3 linked regions of the Homo sapiens genome follow. The protein of the gene in region 2 interacts with the protein of the main gene of each other region in a pairwise test. Each region holds a gene or a part of one and is shown on either strand. Other genes may lie near its edges. The genes, in order: U2AF1, VEGFA and SLC16A2.

Region 1 (3,653 bases), on a different chromosome or scaffold from region 2:
GGCTGGCAAAAGCCTGACTGGTTTCCAGATTGGGCCGGCTGCCTTAGCCTGTGCACCCAACGTGGGCATCTGACTGCTGGCACACGGGTCTTTGAGCTTGCTCAAAACTCTTTTTATCTTTTTTTTTTTTTTTTTTGAGACGGCGTCTCACTGTCTCCAGGCTGGAGTGCAATGGCGTGATCTTGGCTAATTTTTGTAGTTTTAGTAGAGACGGGGTTCCACCATGTTGGCCAGGATGGTCTCAATCTCTCGACCTCGTGATCCACTTGCCTCGGCTTTCCAAAGTGCTGGGATTACAGGCGTGAGCCACCGTGCCCGGCCCCCTTTTTATCTTTGAAGATAAAAAATAACTTCTTATTTTCTAATTCTGAGAATGATTTAAGTTCACTTTCTAACCTATCCGGGGCTGTTTTAGTTATTTTTGAACTTCCAGGAATCTGCTTTCGAACCCAAATTTTATTAAGTGTAACTACTCGGACAGCCTGCCAATCATATCACAGGATATCCCAATTGGAAAGCTATTGGGAATGTACCTTCCTCCCCGAGTAGAAATCAAGTTATAAACGGCCAAAGTAGCCTATTCCAAAGGGCAGATTTTAATATTTCAAATTCACTTCCTTCCCACATAAGAAGAATGTGAAGAGGAGAAAATTATTCACATGCTCAAAGTTTTAGCAGGTTTGAGAAATGGTTTTGGGGTGATTATTTTAAATTATTGGCTATATTTGTTCTGCTTAAAATGTTTCAATCAAAGTGACTTGAAAGGCAGAGACAACTGCATTAAGATACAATTAAAAACTTATTTGTGACTCAGCCTATGTTAAATACTACAACTTGGAAAATAAAGCAGTTTTCTTACAGAAATATCATTCTTAAACTGGGATTGATAGTTAACTTTAACCCACGCATTTGAAGCTTATTTTTTTACATACTAAAGGGTATGTTGAAAAGAGCCAGTAATTTTAGGTAATTGATTTCTTCCTAAAATGACGAATTAGAATTTCATCTAATTTGTACAATCTGGACTCCAGAATTGGAATATAACGTAATTGCTAAACTTTTAGTTTGTAGCATATGCAAAACAAAAGTGCTGTGAACTGCAAATAAAGACACAATGAAAACTAATACAACATTCTATTGTCAGTCAAGAAAGCATATACAGTCCCCAAATAAACGATCAGGGCAAAGAATTAATTACTGTTACTCAGTCATGTACTTCCATTCACTTTTATCCCAGGGCAGGGTTGTTAACAAAAATTATTTAATAAGTGCATATAGAAACAATTTCCCTCCGCCTATTGATCTTATTTCCTTAAAAAACAAAAGAAAACAAACAAACAAAAAAACAGGTATTTTAAACCAAGGGTTACCAAGTAAATCCTGCTACCATCCGACTCAGGGAAAGAAATCTCTACTATCAGGTCAGTATTAGCACTGAAAAGCATTTAGTGTCTTGGCAGGAAAAGTTGACAAGAAAATCTCATCCACACATAGAAATGTGCACCACTGTGCAAGGAAGCACAATCCCCAGGCCACCCAGTGCAGGGCCAGCTCGAGAGGGGAATGCCCCCTGGGATCAGCTACCCCATGTCGGTCACCCCATTAACTGAGGGGCTCTGGTTCAAGGGTGTACTCAATTTAGGCTTGTGGATATCCAAGGGCACCTCAATTTTTACTGCTTTAAAACAGAATGGTGAATGGGAAGTGCCTATCTTTGGTTTGGACTTTCTGATTTTAACAAGAGTCCAGGTGTTCATTTTAATTTATCCATAAATGACTAAATTCTAATGATTCTATAGTTGGATGGCTGTAAAAATCAAATTTTAGTTTTCTGAACTTCCCAATCATACTCATCTATGATATCTCCTTCTCTAAAAATTATCATTAGGTAAATATTCACAATCTAAATTTAGTATTTCCCAGTACAGGAAGATATTGGTACCATCTACTGAATGCCCAGTTTTGATCTATTTCTAAATGGAGCAAACCAATTCCATCTCCTAGAGCTGGAGACTGTATCCAGGCAGTGTGTGGACAGAACGGACAATCTTTTCTGCCAAGGGCCTATTTGAGTGGAGCACCCCCACACGGGTTAGACGGGTCGGCACGGGGCTGGTGGGTGAGGAACTCAGGGGTCAGTGCAAGCTGCAGACCCTCATTTGGGGAACGCTCTCAGCACAATGCTCTTACAACTACAGGGTGCACTCCAAAATGGAGTTCAAGGAAAAAAGGCTAATGAGAAATAAAATCTGAAAAAATAACTTAAAAAGTTTGCTTTTTAAAAATTCCAGAAAGTGAGAGAAACATTCAAATTTTGTTGCTCTAAGAGGGAAGAATATGACTCGACGTTTAATTCCAGTACATTCCCTCTAGGATGACGGCCAAAGTAAAGGAAGAAGGGGCAGCAGCAGCTCCAGACTGTTTTTTTTTTTTTTTTTGGAGACGGAGTCTCACTCTGTCGCCCAGGCTGGAGTGCAGCGGCACGATCTCAGTTCACTGCAACCTCCGCCTCCCGGGTTCAAGCGATTCTCTGCCTCAGCCTCCCTAGAAGCTGGGATTGCAGGCATCTGCCACCACGCCCAGCTAATTTTTGTATCTTTAGTAGAGATGGGGTTTCACCATGTTGGCCAGATTGGTCTTGAACTCCTGACCTCATGATCCACCCGCCTCGGCCTCCCAAAGTGCTGGGATTACAGGCGTGAGCCACCGCGCCCGGCCCAGCTCTAGACTGTTTTAAAGGGCACCCTTTCCAGTTACTTTTTCCCTTTTAACACACGGTGGGAGTTCAAATCTCCAAAAGAGGTTTCCATGGGGTCAGTGGGACGAAAGCTCCTTGCCACCTCTAGTGAAACGCGGTCCTTGACACTAGCACGGCAGACCAGATGGAGTGGACACTGAGCTCTGACACGCAAGCCCAGGGAACCGGGGAAGGAACTTGTATGAACTTACAGCGCAAACCGTCAGCAGACTGGGAAGAGTTTTGAGGGTTACGGTAAATGTTCAAGAGGGCAATGGTCTGAAATACAAAACGCAACAACTTTATATTATGGAAAATTAAAGGTAAACACTTAACCGGCTGCCTCTGGCAAGTGCTTCAGTTGAGATTCAGTGCTGAAAAGAGAGCAAGTTATTTTCTGGAGAAGCAGAGGCGTTTTCTCAGTTGGCGGCTGCCTTGAATCCCTAACACTGCGGTGTAACGGAGGTCTCATGATATGCCCATCTTGTACTTCTGCTTACAGAACGTGAAAACTCTCCTTTTCAAAATTCCAATTCAGGTAAAAGCACAAATAGTTTGCCAGGCTAGCACCAAAATGTTCTTAGATGTGGCAGAAAATTTTTAATGAACTCGGAAAGAATAATGCTTACATAAACTGATGGAAAAAATTACTGTATTAGAGAAATACAATTGTTACATATCATGAAATCTCCACTTCCTGGAGGAAAAATTATAATGGTGAAATAAAACCCACACTTACTGGGCAACTTACCTTATTGATTCCTTAATATTCCTAAGAGTTTTAATTTTACACAAAGAACTTAATAAAGGCCAGGGGTTCAGTCACTGTAAAGACCAATGAATGGCTCAAAATGTTGAAATCCGTTTCACATGGACGGACCTGCTCTCATGACAAATGTCAATCAATGGAGGTGGC
Region 2 (3,653 bases):
TTCTCAGCTCATGTCTGGGGAAGAGGACTGGCAGGGGGAAAGGTGCCTCCTCCTGAAAGGTGCCTCCTCTGTTTTTGCCTAATATAGGCTTGGGAACACTTTGATGTCAGCTAATTCTGACTCCTTTACTTACTAGCTGTGCGGCCTTGGGGCAACTTACTTAGCCTCTTTGAGCCTCCTGTTCCCCATCTGTAAAATGGAATCTCAATAGTGTCTAATAGTACCATGTGGAGAAACTTGTGTGAAATGATAGCTGTGGACTACTGTACACAGTACTCAGGATGTAGTAAGTGCTCAATAAACAGCTGTTGGTATGGTTGACGTTATGGTAGTGGTTGTGGGGAGGACGTAGGAAACTGGAGACTAGCTTGGCAAAGCTGGCTCTTCCTCCTTTTAGGGAAAGCTTAGAGCATCCCCATGGGGTATACCCATACTCAGACTGTCCTCTGGCATCGAGGTTGGCCCAGGATTCAGTTCAGCTGTCACAGTGAGGTGGCGGGATCAGATGTGGCAGGCCATGTCCCTTGGAACTTGAGTACATCGTGTGATCTCTGGAATGAAAACAGGCCTTCACCAGTGTTGATGGTGGAAAGCTTAGGGAAGTGCTTCAAACACAGTAGGAGGGACTTACGTTAGATTTTGGAAGGACTTGCCTGATTCGGAAGCTCCAAAGAGTGGCATTACAGAGCTGGGTGGAGAGAGGGGCTAGCCATCTTTTGTGTCGCCCACCGGGCTCATGTGTCATCGCCTCTCATGCAGTGGTGAAGTTCATGGATGTCTATCAGCGCAGCTACTGCCATCCAATCGAGACCCTGGTGGACATCTTCCAGGAGTACCCTGATGAGATCGAGTACATCTTCAAGCCATCCTGTGTGCCCCTGATGCGATGCGGGGGCTGCTGCAATGACGAGGGCCTGGAGTGTGTGCCCACTGAGGAGTCCAACATCACCATGCAGGTGGGCATCTTTGGGAAGTGGGGCAAGGGGGGGATAGGGAGGGGGGTAACACTTTGGGAACAGGTGGTCCCAGGTCGTTTCCTGGCTAGATTTGCCTTGTCTGGCTCCTGCCCCTGAGTTGCACAGGGGAGGTATGGTGGGGTCTTGCCTTCTGTGGAGAAGATGCTTCATTCCCAGCCCAGGTTCCCAGCAAGCCCCAACCATCTCCTTCTCCCTGATGGTTGCCCATGGGCTCAGGAGGGGACAGATGGATGCCTGTGTCAGGAGCCCCTCTCTCCCTCTCTTGGAGAGAGTCCTGAGTGCCCCCCCTTCTTGGGGGCTTTGTTTGGGAAGCTGGATGAGCCTGGTCCATGGAGAGTTTAAAAAGTCTTTTGGTGTTACCTGGTAATGGGGCACATCTCAGCCCAGATAGGGTGGGAGGGAGCTGTGAAACACAGGGAGGGGGTTGCTTTCGGGTATCTACTAGGAGTCAGGGTGAAGCCTAGAGAGGATGAAAGAAGGGGAGGGGATGGGGAGTGGTAAGAACCTAGGATTTGAATTCCCAGCCTGGCCAACCCTTGCAGCCATGTCTTGGCCTCAAGTGGAACAAGGGCTCCTTGAGGCCAGCAGGGTTGGGGGAGTTGGGGTGGGCCTGAGCCTCTTTCCTGCTAGAGCTCTTGGTCCTCCCTGCCTCCACCACCCATCCCTGCTCTGCAGAACCCCTGGGTGCTGAGTGGCAGGAGCCCCAGGGTTGTCCCATCTGGGTATGGCTGGCTGGGTCACTAACCTCTGTGATCTGCTTCCTTCCTTTCCAGATTATGCGGATCAAACCTCACCAAGGCCAGCACATAGGAGAGATGAGCTTCCTACAGCACAACAAATGTGAATGCAGGTGAGGATGTAGTCACGGATTCATTATCAGCAAGTGGCTGCAGGGTGCCTGATCTGTGCCAGGGTTAAGCATGCTGTACTTTTTGGCCCCCGTCCAGCTTCCCGCTATGTGACCTTTGGCATTTTACTTCAATGTGCCTCAGTTTCTACATCTGTAAAATGGGCACAATAGTAGTATACTTCATAGCATTGTTATAATGATTAAACAAGTTATATATGAAAAGATTAAAACAGTGTTGCTCCATAATAAATGCTGTTTTTACTGTGATTATTATTGTTGTTATCCCTATCATTATCATCACCATCTTAACCCTTCCCTGTTTTGCTCTTTTCTCTCTCCCTACCCATTGCAGACCAAAGAAAGATAGAGCAAGACAAGAAAAGTAAGTGGCCCTGACTTTAGCACTTCTCCCTCTCCATGGCCGGTTGTCTTGGTTTGGGGCTCTTGGCTACCTCTGTTGGGGGCTCCCATAGCCTCCCTGGGTCAGGGACTTGGTCTTGTGGGGGACTTGTGGTGGCAGCAACAATGGGATGGAGCCAACTCCAGGATGATGGCTCTAGGGCTAGTGAGAAAACATAGCCAGGAGCCTGGCACTTCCTTTGGAAGGGACAATGCCTTCTGGGTCTCCAGATCATTCCTGACCAGGACTTGCTGTTTCGGTGTGTCAGGGGGCACTGTGGACACTGGCTCACTGGCTTGCTCTAGGACACCCACAGTGGGGAGAGGGAGTGGGTGGCAGAGAGGCCAGCTTTTGTGTGTCAGAGGAAATGGCCTCTTTTGGTGGCTGCTGTGACGGTGCAGTTGGATGCGAGGCCGGCTGGAGGGTGGTTTCTCAGTGCATGCCCTCCTGTAGGCGGCAGGCGGCAGACACACAGCCCTCTTGGCCAGGGAGAAAAAGTTGAATGTTGGTCATTTTCAGAGGCTTGTGAGTGCTCCGTGTTAAGGGGCAGGTAGGATGGGGTGGGGGACAAGGTCTGGCGGCAGTAACCCTTCAAGACAGGGTGGGCGGCTGGCATCAGCAAGAGCTTGCAGGGAAAGAGAGACTGAGAGAGAGCACCTGTGCCCTGCCCTTTCCCCCACACCATCTTGTCTGCCTCCAGTGCTGTGCGGACATTGAAGCCCCCACCAGGCCTCAACCCCTTGCCTCTTCCCTCAGCTCCCAGCTTCCAGAGCGAGGGGATGCGGAAACCTTCCTTCCACCCTTTGGTGCTTTCTCCTAAGGGGGACAGACTTGCCCTCTCTGGTCCCTTCTCCCCCTCCTTTCTTCCCTGTGACAGACATCCTGAGGTGTGTTCTCTTGGGCTTGGCAGGCATGGAGAGCTCTGGTTCTCTTGAAGGGGACAGGCTACAGCCTGCCCCCCTTCCTGTTTCCCCAAATGACTGCTCTGCCATGGGGAGAGTAGGGGGCTCGCCTGGGCTCGGAAGAGTGTCTGGTGAGATGGTGTAGCAGGCTTTGACAGGCTGGGGAGAGAACTCCCTGCCAAGTACCGCCCAAGCCTCTCCTCCCCAGACCTCCTTAACTCCCACCCCATCCTGCTGCCTGCCCAGGGCTCCAGGACACCCAGCCCTGCCTCCCAGTCCAGGTCGTGCTGAGCAGGCTGGTGTTGCTCTTGGTTCCGTGCCAGCTCCCAAGGTAGCCGCTTCCCCCACACCGGGATTCCCAGAGGTTCTGTCGCAGTTGCAAATGAAGGCACAAGGCCTGATACACAGCCCTCCCTCCCACTCCTGCTCCCCATCCAGGCAGGTCTCTGACCTTCTCCCCAAAGTCTGGCCTACCTTTTATCACCCCCGGACCTTCAGGGTCAGACTTGGACAGGGCTGCTGGG
Region 3 (3,653 bases), on a different chromosome or scaffold from region 2:
CTTAATGTAAAACTTAAAACTATAAAACTTCTAGAAGAACATATAGGAGACAAATCTTCCTGGCCTTTGGTTAGGCAAAGATTTTGCAGATATTCACAAATCGTATGATCCATAAAAGAAAAGATTTGATATATTAGACTTGATCAAACTTGAAAACTTCTGCTTTTCAAAAATAGTTATGAAAATGAAAAGGCAAGCCATAGACAGAAAAATTTTGCAGCACACAAAATCTGACAATAGACCGGTATCCACCATACAAGAGTGAGTTGACTCTCATAACTCAATAATAAAGCAAACAATCTAACTTAAAATATGGGCAAAAGAATTGAACAGAGATTACACAATTACACATGTGCACATACATTTATGATATGAATAGTAATTAAGCATATAAAAAGATGCTCAACATCACTAATAAGTTGAGAAACGCATATTAAAACCACAATGAGATAGCCCTTACCAAGAAAGCCTTTTTTCTTTTCTTTTTCTTTTTTTTTTTTCTTGAGACAGAGTTTCATTCTGTCTCCAGGCTGAAGTGCAGAGGCGCAATCTTGGTTCACTGCCACCTCTGCCTCCCGGGTTCAAGCAACTCTTGTGCCTCAGCCTCCCGGGTAGCTGGGATTACAGGCGCACGCCACCATGCCTAATTTTTTGTATTTCTAGTAGAGATGGGGTTTCACCACGATGGCCAGGCTGGTCTCAAACTCCCGGCCTCAAATGATCCACCTGCCTCAGTCTCCCAAAGTGCTGGGATTATAGGCGTGAGCAATGGTGCCCAGCAAAGAAAGGTTTTTACAAAATGATAATACCTAATACTGGGAGGATATGGAGGAACTGGAAATGTAATACGCTGCTGGTGGCAATGCAAAACAGTACTCACTTTGGAAAACAGTTTGGCAGCCTCCTGTGAAGTTAGTCATACATTTACCATGATCCCGAAAACCCACTGCTAGATATTAACTCAAGATGAATGAAAACTTATGTTCACACAAAAACCTGAACCTAGATGATTACACTAGCTTTTTTTTTCATAATTGTGCAAATCTGGAAACAACCCAAATGTACTTCAACTGGTGAATGGATAAACAAATGAATACACATTAATACAATGGAATACAACACAGCAATAGACAGGAATGAACTACTGAAACTTGAACAATCTCAAAGGCGTTATGCTAAGTAAACGAAGCCAGACTCAAATTATTCCTTCCACTTACAGGAAATTCGAGAAAAGACAAAACTATGGGGACAGGAAAACAAATCAGTAGGTGGCAGGAGGAGGGATGAGGGAGACAATTGACTACAGAGGGACATGAAGAAACTTTTTGGGGGTAATGAAAATGTTATCAAGTTTCATCTTGAGTCTCTCTTTTCTAAGCTTTATATGTTACATATCTTGATGATGGTGGTATTCTTTTGTCAAAATTCATAGAACTGAGCATGTAAAAAAGGGTGAATATTACCATATGTAATTATATCTCAATAAATCTGATGTTATTTTTAAAGGTGGGGAGAAGGCGGGAAAGCAGAAAGTGCCAGTTCAAGATCTCATTTATGATATATGTATCTTTATTCTGGCCAGAGTAAAAAAGTAGCTCAGTTGTATTGTCAAAGAGAAAAAAAATAATTAAATTTAGCAAATCATCTTACTGACATTTTATAACTAGAACTGACCATTATTTGACCCTTCTGAATGTCTATGATATAATGAAAACTGATGATTATTCTTATAAGGAATTTTTTGTACAGTCAAAGAAACTTTAAATTATGTTTGATATAGCTTTTAAAAATTAATCTATTTCATTTAAAAAAAAATTTTTAATTGTGAAATAACTATAGATTCACAGGAAATAGCCAAGATAGTCCAGAGAGGTCCCATGAACTCTTCACCAAGTTTCCCCTTATGTAACTATAACATGATATCAAAACCAGAAAATTAGGAGTGGCACAATATGTGCATATAGTTCTGTATCATTTTATCATGGGTAGATTCCTGAAACCACCATTGTGATCAAGATACAGAACTATTCCATCACCACAAAGATCTCCTTTGTGTTACAGTCACACTCAGCCCACTCCCCCACGACCCATAACTCCTAGCAATCACAAATTTGAAGAAAGTTATATAAATGGAGTCATACAGTATGTGGCCTTTTGAAATTGACTTTTTTTTACCCAGCATAATTCCCTGGAAATACATATTTGAAGTGAGTTTCTTATAGACAGCATATAGCTGGGTCATGATTTTTTTTTCTATCCACTCTGCCAATCTCTGTCTTTGAACTGATATATTTAGATCGTTTACATTTGATGTAATCATTGATACATTAGGGCAATTTTATTTTTGTTTCCTGTTTGTTTTCTGTTTTTAGTTTCTCTGTATTCTTTTATCCTGCCTGCCTATGGGTTACTTTAAAAGTTTTTAGAATTCCACTTTATTTATTGTGCTTTAAAGTGTGTTCCTTTGTATACCTTTTTTAGTGGCCACTGAAAAATGTACTCAAAGAAATCACATTATATATATATAATGGTATCACATCATATGTATACAACATCATTGGTGTCGACATGTTACTAGTTGGAGAGGAGTGTAGAAACCTAACCTCCCTTATATCTCCTCACCCTCCCTCATTTATAATAAAATTATCTTAAATATTTCCTCTACATCTATTAATAACCACATTAGGCATTATTATAATTTTTCTTCAACTGTTAAACCTAATTTACAAAACACAAAAGGGACCAGGCACTATGGCTCATGCCTGTAATCTCAGCACTTTGGGAGGCCAACGTGGGCAGATCACTTGAGTCTAGGAGTTTGAGACCAGCATGTGTAATGTGGCAAAACTCCATCTCTACAAAAAATCAGCTGGGCATGGTGGTGCACACCCATAGTCCCAGCTACTCAGGAGGCTGAGGTGGGAGGATCACCTGAGCCCAGGAGGTTGAGGCTGCTGCAGTGAGCCATGATTGTGCCACTGCACTCCAGCCTGGGTGACACAGTGAGAGCCTCTCTCCAAAAAAAAGAAAGAAAAAAAAACACAAAAGGAGAAGAAATCTAAATCAATTATATTATAATATCTGTCACATTTATGTATAATTTTACTTTTTCCACTGTTCTTTCTTTCTGATGTTCCAAGATTCCTTCTTCTATTGTTTCTTTTCTGGTTAAATAATTTCCTTTAGCTATTCTTTTAGGGTAGGTCTGTTGGGGACAAATTCTCTTAGTTTTCCTTCGTTTGAGAATGTATTGATTTCCTCATTCATTCCTGAAGGATATTTTCACTGGATATACAATTCTGAGCTAAGAGAGCTTTTATTTCAGCACTTTGCCCTCCATGGTTTCTGATGAGAAATCTTCTGTCATTTTAATTGTTTTTCCCCTAGAGTTAACGTGTCATTTCTCTCTTACTGTTTTCAAGATGTGTGTGTGTGTGTGTGTGTGCATGCACGTGCATGTCTGTGTGTTTAGCTTTTGAAAGTTTGACTATGATGTGTCTTGGCATAGAGTTCTTTGAGTTTATTCTCTTTGGGATTTGCTCAGTTTCTTAAATCTACAGACTTATGTTTTTACCAGAGTTGGGAAGTTTTCAGCAATTATTGCTTCAAGTATCTCTTCAGCCCTGCCTTTTTCCTCTTCTGGGACTCCTCTG

What was found.
Region 1: the proteins of VEGFA (region 2) and U2AF1 interact in a two-hybrid assay, tested with the Homo sapiens proteins (one large-scale study listed by BioGRID).
Region 3: the proteins of VEGFA (region 2) and SLC16A2 interact in a two-hybrid assay, tested with the Homo sapiens proteins (one large-scale study listed by BioGRID).

The regions. Positions count from the first base shown.
Region 1 is NC_000021.9:43,097,504-43,101,156, forward strand, and holds part of U2AF1 (splicing factor U2AF 35 kDa subunit), read right to left. Parts: intron 3,017-3,653; coding exon 2,950-3,016; intron 1-2,949. UniProt on the Homo sapiens protein: Plays a critical role in both constitutive and enhancer-dependent splicing by mediating protein-protein interactions and protein-RNA interactions required for accurate 3'-splice site selection. Recruits U2 snRNP to the branch point.
Region 2 is NC_000006.12:43,776,710-43,780,362, forward strand, and holds part of VEGFA (vascular endothelial growth factor A, long form), read left to right. Parts: intron 1-759; coding exon 760-956; intron 957-1,750; coding exon 1,751-1,827; intron 1,828-2,179; coding exon 2,180-2,209; intron 2,210-3,653.
Region 3 is NC_000023.11:74,515,440-74,519,092, reverse strand, and holds part of SLC16A2 (monocarboxylate transporter 8), read right to left. Parts: intron 1-3,653. UniProt on the Homo sapiens protein: Specific thyroid hormone transmembrane transporter, that mediates both uptake and efflux of thyroid hormones across the cell membrane independently of pH or a Na(+) gradient.